Linked DNA regions of Homo sapiens: region 2 is reported to be linked to region 1. Evidence: microRNA targets listed by miRTarBase, many of them from high-throughput screens and not tested one by one. Region 1 holds a microRNA gene; the other region holds the end of a gene's coding sequence.

Evidence for each region. The annotated mature microRNA hsa-miR-4269 reads GCAGGCACAGACAGCCCUGGC and lies in region 1 at 1,275-1,295, opposite strand. An mRNA with a match to its seed (bases 2 to 7 or 8) in the 3' UTR can be bound and repressed. Matches are read on the target gene's strand: a 7mer-m8 pairs with bases 2 to 8, a 7mer-A1 pairs with bases 2 to 7 and ends in A, and an 8mer does both.
Region 2: the mRNA of QNG1 is a reported target of hsa-miR-4269. Seed matches in the 3' UTR shown: 7mer-m8 at 2,540-2,546.

The regions. Positions count from the first base shown.
Region 1 is chr2:239,303,660-239,306,766 of GRCh38, reverse strand. MIR4269 (microRNA 4269) reads right to left here and starts at 1,305; the gene lies at 1,222-1,305. The region is part of intron 2 of HDAC4 (histone deacetylase 4); the gene reads left to right.
Region 2 is chr9:83,936,675-83,939,746 of GRCh38, forward strand. It overlaps QNG1 (Q-nucleotide N-glycosylase 1), which reads right to left. Exons shown (of 4, transcript NM_032307.5): 4 at 1,637-3,069. The coding sequence ends at 2,837. Among named protein-coding and RNA genes, the nearest start is that of KIF27, 17 kb to the left of the region's middle.

The DNA of each region.
Region 1 (3,107 bases):
TCGCCCCTTAGCATTCACCCCCTACCCCTTTTCACCATGTAAAACCCTGTGGGCCCTGGGCCCTGGATGCTCTGCGCCCGAGGACCTGGGTTCTGCCATCACCTGGGCAGTGTGGGGGGCATATAGGGGGAACATGGGGTGCCTGATGTAGTGCCTGTGTTTGACCTTGTTTAGGTGAAGAGCACCCTTTCCAGCTTATGTTTTGTATCATGACCGGGAAAGGTACGAAACAAGTGTGTCGGGGCCCAGATGATTTGATGGCTCTACGGGCCGAGTATGGGACACAGGATAGCTTGGCCCTGGGTCAGGTATTAGTCAGTCCTTGCTGGCACCTGGGCAGGGACACATCCGTGGATGGGGCCTGGCCAGGTGGCCTCTGAGGTCCTCGTGTCCACTGGAAGGCTGTGTCCTCTGTTGTAGTCACTGACTTGCTGGACCTGGGTGGGAGCTCACCCACCTGTGGATGGGCCAGGGAGCTCCTGGAATCACTAGAAAGATGAACTTTTTTTGCCTTCTAAATGTATGAAAAGATGGGAAATGATAGGAAAATAAGTGGAAGTCAGATCTATTCAGGAAAATGACTTCCCAGGGAAGAGCTGGGGTGCCTCCAAACCCAGAATCCTCGGTTTCTAGAAGCAAGGCTGACCGAGGTGGGCAGCATTCTTTGGGACCTTGAGTGATGAAGTAGTTACTTAAGCAGAGTGTTTCTCATGTGAAGCCAGGCAGTCTAGGACACTAGGAATCATTTCAGCGTGGGGGAGACGCAGACACTGTGCTTGCCCAGGGTGCTGCATTCATCTGAAATGCCGGTGGCTACCAGCTCTTTGTCACGGTTCCTCCGTGGTCTCCTTGAATGCTGTCAGATTCAGGGCCCGTGTGGGCAGCGGCAGCCTCGTTCCCAGTCGTGTTTAGGGAATGGGGTCAGAGAAGTACTTGCTAAAGCTTCCTGTGTGCACGTGTAATTGTGTGTGCATGTGTGTTAAATAAATGTATTTCAACTCGAAATACACGTTTCGTGGCCATCAGTCTAGGGATGGCTAGAATTTAGTCACTAAATGAAACTAAGCCGCACCGTCACCAATAATGTGAACATGATTAAAAACCACACTCAGTTCTTATTCATTTACCTACAAGTCCAGAAACTTTTAGAACTTATTTCACCATTAAAATAAATAGTTTTTTAAAAAATATACAACAATAAGGAAAAATTTGAAAGCCTCTTGCCCCTCCATCCCAGGCCTGACAGAGTGGCTTCCACAAAGAAAGAGGCAGAAGCCAGGGCTGTCTGTGCCTGCAGGGCGCTGTTGGGCTCACAGATGACCCAGACTCCCCCGTAATGGAGCCGCGGACCCACAGCGAGCCACTTGCACCAGGCTTAGCCAAGCTGACAGGCCAGCGGAGTAAGGAATGTTCCCTACCATTGTCCAGAAAATGTAACGAGGGTGAAGGTGTGCCAAGCAGACTCCCCGTGTCAGCCCTGAGGCGACTGCCATCGCTTTCAGAAACCTGACTACCAACCTGGATGAAAACCGACTGCTTGGTCATGGCCATGCAGTTAGAAAACACAGCAGCAATCCTCAGATGAGTGTGGCCGTATTTGTGTTACTCAAGCTGCTTTGTCATCTGCATTTGAAGAAACGTGGTGAGCCTCCTGTGTGTGCCCATGTGGCAGTGGGCACCTCTGCCCCCTGCAAAGGCTGTCTAAGAACACAGAGCCTGCAGTACAGGCCCTGCCTCCTGACATGCCCCAGGCCGGCTGGAAGAAAGCGCGGGACTGTCCTATTGACGTGGGGAGGGGACGGCTGGACTCTGTGATGCTAACTGTGTTCTCTGCTGGGCCATGTGGCTCCCCACAGAGACCCTGGGTGCCCAGTCATTCGCGTTCTCCTATGTGTGTGTATATATATTATATATACATGTATTTACTAACTTTAGAAAGCCCCCAAGGGGGCCTTGTTTCTGCTTGGACAGTCAGCGTCCATAGCGTGTCATTCCTAAGCTCCATTAAGGAGATTCAGAAGCAAGCAGTTACCCCTGGAGTCTGCACGCTGGGCACAAGGGTCACACCTTCGTTGAGAGCTCCTGACCCCAGGAGCCGAGGGCAGGACACGGTAGTGTTTACAGGACCTGGCAAAGGGGCACTGCCTTGTGTGTGAGGTTTTTTCACCAGTCAGTCCCTTTTAAAAACAGCATATCTTTTGAAGAACAAGAAGTTTACGCAGGCATAAGCAACTCACTTTGCACGTGGAGCTTTCAGGACGTTTCATGTCTGTTACGTTATAGCCTCTATCCTCATGGGGGCTCTGAGTTCAGCAGGGCCTGAGCTGTTAATCTGCTTTTTCAAATTATTAATAATGAAAGTAACACCATGCCACCACCTGGTATCATTTCATGCTTTCTATGTGCCTGGTGTTTACACGGCTTATCTCATTTAATCTTCCCAGCATGTAATAAAAATATTGCAACAGGTACTGCTCCTGTGTGGACTCCTTCCCCCGAGCTCACACTGCTTGAGGCCTTCCCAGCTCTGGGCTTTGTGTCCTGTGTGGACTTCTTCCCCGAGCTCACACTGCTTGAGGCATTCTAGCTCTGGGCTTTGTGAATATCCTGCTTTTATCCTCATTTATAGGTAAGAAAGCTGACTCAGAGAGGTTAAGCAGCTGGTCTGAGGTCAACTGCTTACGGGTCGGGGAGCTGGGCCTGCACACAGGGGTCTGATGCAGAGCTGGTCCTATCTGCTTTATAAGCTGTGGCTCACAGGGCACTCCAGGGGCTCGAGAGGACCTGGCGGGCTGAGATGAAGACTGGTGAGGCCTGGGAGGCAGGTGCTTGACTGAGGTGGGAAGTGGGACCTTGGTGCCAAGCATTCCCAGGGCCACGGGGCAGGCCTGTAGGGTCTGGTGGGTATCTGGGGTCCCGGAGAAGCCCTTGGCACGGGGCTTCATGAGAGCATAGGCGAGTGCCGCGCCCTGCAGTTGAGCACGGGGGATGCAGCTGTCGCAGTCGCTTTTGAAGAGTGAGGGGTGAGGCCTGCAGTTGCTGCCCGACGTTGTTTACAAGTGAGCAAGTTTTACAAAAAACATGGACAGCATCAGGGCTGACTTGAA
Region 2 (3,072 bases), not on the chromosome of region 1:
ATCCAATGCCCATAATACATGCCACTTTCCTAGCCTTCTTGGCAGTTAGTTGTGGTCACGTGACTAAATTCTAGTAAGATGAAACCAAAATGGAATGTGGTGGCTACTAGAGCCTTTCTTGTCAACTCTTTTTGTTTCTTCCTTATTTTTTTTTAAGAGACTGGATCTCGCTACATTGCCCAGGCTGGACATGAACTCCTACGTTCAAGGGATCCTCCTACCTCAGTTCCTCCCCACCACACAGTGGCTGGGACCATAGGAGCGAGCCACTGCACCTGGCTTCAACCCTTTCTTTCTACTCTTCTTTATTGCTTCAATCCTGCTGGCTAGATTAGAATGCAGGCATCCAGGATTGATTCCAGGTTATGCTCAGTGGCAGAAGAGAAAAGGCAGCTGGGTCTGGGAAACCATGGCTCACAGCTGTAAACGCGGTGCTTTGGAAGGCCAGTGGCAGGAGGACTGCTTGAGCCTAGGAGTTCGAGACCAACCTGAGCAACATAGTGAGACCCCATCTCTACAAAAAATTTAAATTAGCCAGATATAGTGGCATGCGCCTGTGGTCCCAGCACTTTGGGAGGATTGCTTGAGCCCAGGAGTTCAAGGTTACAATGAGCTATGATCTCACGACTGTGCTCCAGCCTGGGTGACAGTGAGACCATCTCTAAAAAAATAAAAAATAAAAAATAAAAAAAAAGAGAGTGGAGAAGGAGAAGAAAAAGAGGGGGGAGGGGAAAGAAGGGAAGAAGAAGGAGGAGGGCAGAGAAGCAAAGGGGAGGAGAAGAGGGAAAGGGGGAAGGGAAGACAGGAAGTGCCAGAAGGGTGGCAGGAGCAGAGGCCCAGAGATTACACTGGAAACTGTTATGATGCTTTCTGGTACAAGTTACAGAAAACTAATTCAAGATGCTGGAAATAATAAGGTAATGTGTTTATTATCTCAAGTATGAAGTCCATGGATAGGATGGGCTCAGGCATGGAAAGTATAGCTGGGCTCTAGCTCCACAAAATGGCTACCTGCATGATAGCAGGTATCATGCTAAAAGCATTGCTCAGAGGAAGAAAAGGGAACTTTGTCCTATATCTCTTTCTTAAAAGTGAAGAATCCTTTTCTAGAAGCTTCCCAGCAGACTTGTCATCCAGTGTCACTGTCCAGAACTAGATTATATACCCATTATCAAAGCAATCACAGGCAAGGAGAGTAAAGTGACCAGGAATAGTAAACCATTCATACAAGATCTACCTCCAGAACTGGGGATGGGATCACCATCCCCTGAGTCATACAGGACAGGGATAGACACAGGACCACTCCTATGGTTGTGCAAGTTGTGTAGTGCACAACTCCAGGAGGCCTCACTCACAGTCATTTGTAAGGTTATTATGACAAATTTCCAGCAGATGGCAGTAAAGTGCTTGGGAAAAGGGCATCTTTTTCTGACTTTTCTGAAGTCACAGCAAGCAGACAAGGTAGATACCTAACAAAATCAAGATTCTGTTAGAAGGAATGTGGCGGGGGTGGTGGGAAATGAGTACTTGACAGGTAATGAGAGTTCTGCAGCAGAAGGTAAATAATCTAACTTACAGTAAACCTTTTAAAATTATATATAGTAAATTCTATTTTAATGAAATAATCCATTCCAGGTTTAAGAAAAATTTTGAATATTTTTATTGAATTCCAATATAGTTACTCTGAAAAAACAAATTAGACAGATATCCTAAATTGAAAATCATGATGTACAAAACCCACTGTCATTACCAATAAAAAGTTTAAAATAAAGTGTCAAGATTGATTTTTACAAGAACAGCATTCATATATCAAAAACCTCTCTCTTTTTTATACCAAATGATTAAGGTATACTGAAAATTACACACCTCAAGAAAATATATCAGTAGATGAAATATTATCACTGAAGATTAGTCACATAAGGCATGATTAGTTTTGGGAAATTTAAATAAAATATTAAAGTTCCTTCACGATTTCCGTCAACTACATGTCCACAGGGGGGAAAAAAAAAAAACATAAGTCAAAACTAAACAGGCAGACAAATGATAAAGTTGGGAATACATAGCGATGTCAGGAATTTTTTTTTTTTGAGACAAGGTCTCCATCTGTTGCCCAGGATAGAATGCAGTGGCGTGACTGTGGCTCACTGCAGCCTCAAACCCCTGGGCTCAAGCAATCCACCCTCCTCAGCCTCAGCCTACCGCGTATTTGGGATTACAGAGCGTGCCACCATGCTAGGCTAATTTTTAAATTTTTGTAGAGATGGGGGTCTCCCTATGTTGCCTAGGCTGGTCTTGAACTCCTCGCCTCAAGCAATCCTCCTGCCTTGGCCTCCCAAAGTGCTAAGATTATACATATGAGCCACCACATCTGGCCTAGGAAGTTTTGTTGTTGTTGTTGTTGTTGTTGTTGTTTTTTGAGACAAAGTTTCACTCTTGTTGCTGAGGCTGGAGTGCAATGGCCTAATCTCGCCTCACTGCAACCTCCACCTTCTGAGTTCAAGCGATTCTCTTGCCTCAGCCTCCCAAGTAACTGGGATTACAGGCACGTGCCACCACGCCCAGCTAATTTTGTATTTTTAGTAGAGATGGGGTTTCACCATGTTGGCCAGGTGGTCTCAAACTCCTGACCTCAGATGATCCACCCGCCTCAGCCTCCCACAGTGCTGGGATTACAGGCATAAACCACTGTGCCCGGCCTAGGAAGTATTTTTCAAGTGAGAATGGGCAATCAATTTCCTATAACCTCGATCATGTTCTCTAAATATCAAAGCAAAACTGTACAGATGATATGATATAAAACGCAGGGGGTTTTCTTTGGATCAGTTTACACTTGAGGTCAATAATATATGCAACGTATGCGATGAAACGGAATTCCTTTCATATCTTCCCTATGGTCATGGGCATAGTCCCATAAGTAATAATCCAGAAGAATGGAATTGATCTCTCCATTAGGTTTTTCACCCTTTTGTTCAATAAGCTCCAGAAGACAATCCCGGATCAGCTCAACACACCAAAGCGAGCACCCTCTGATTTCCACCTCTTGCCTGTCTCCATATGAGAGCATTTCTCCTG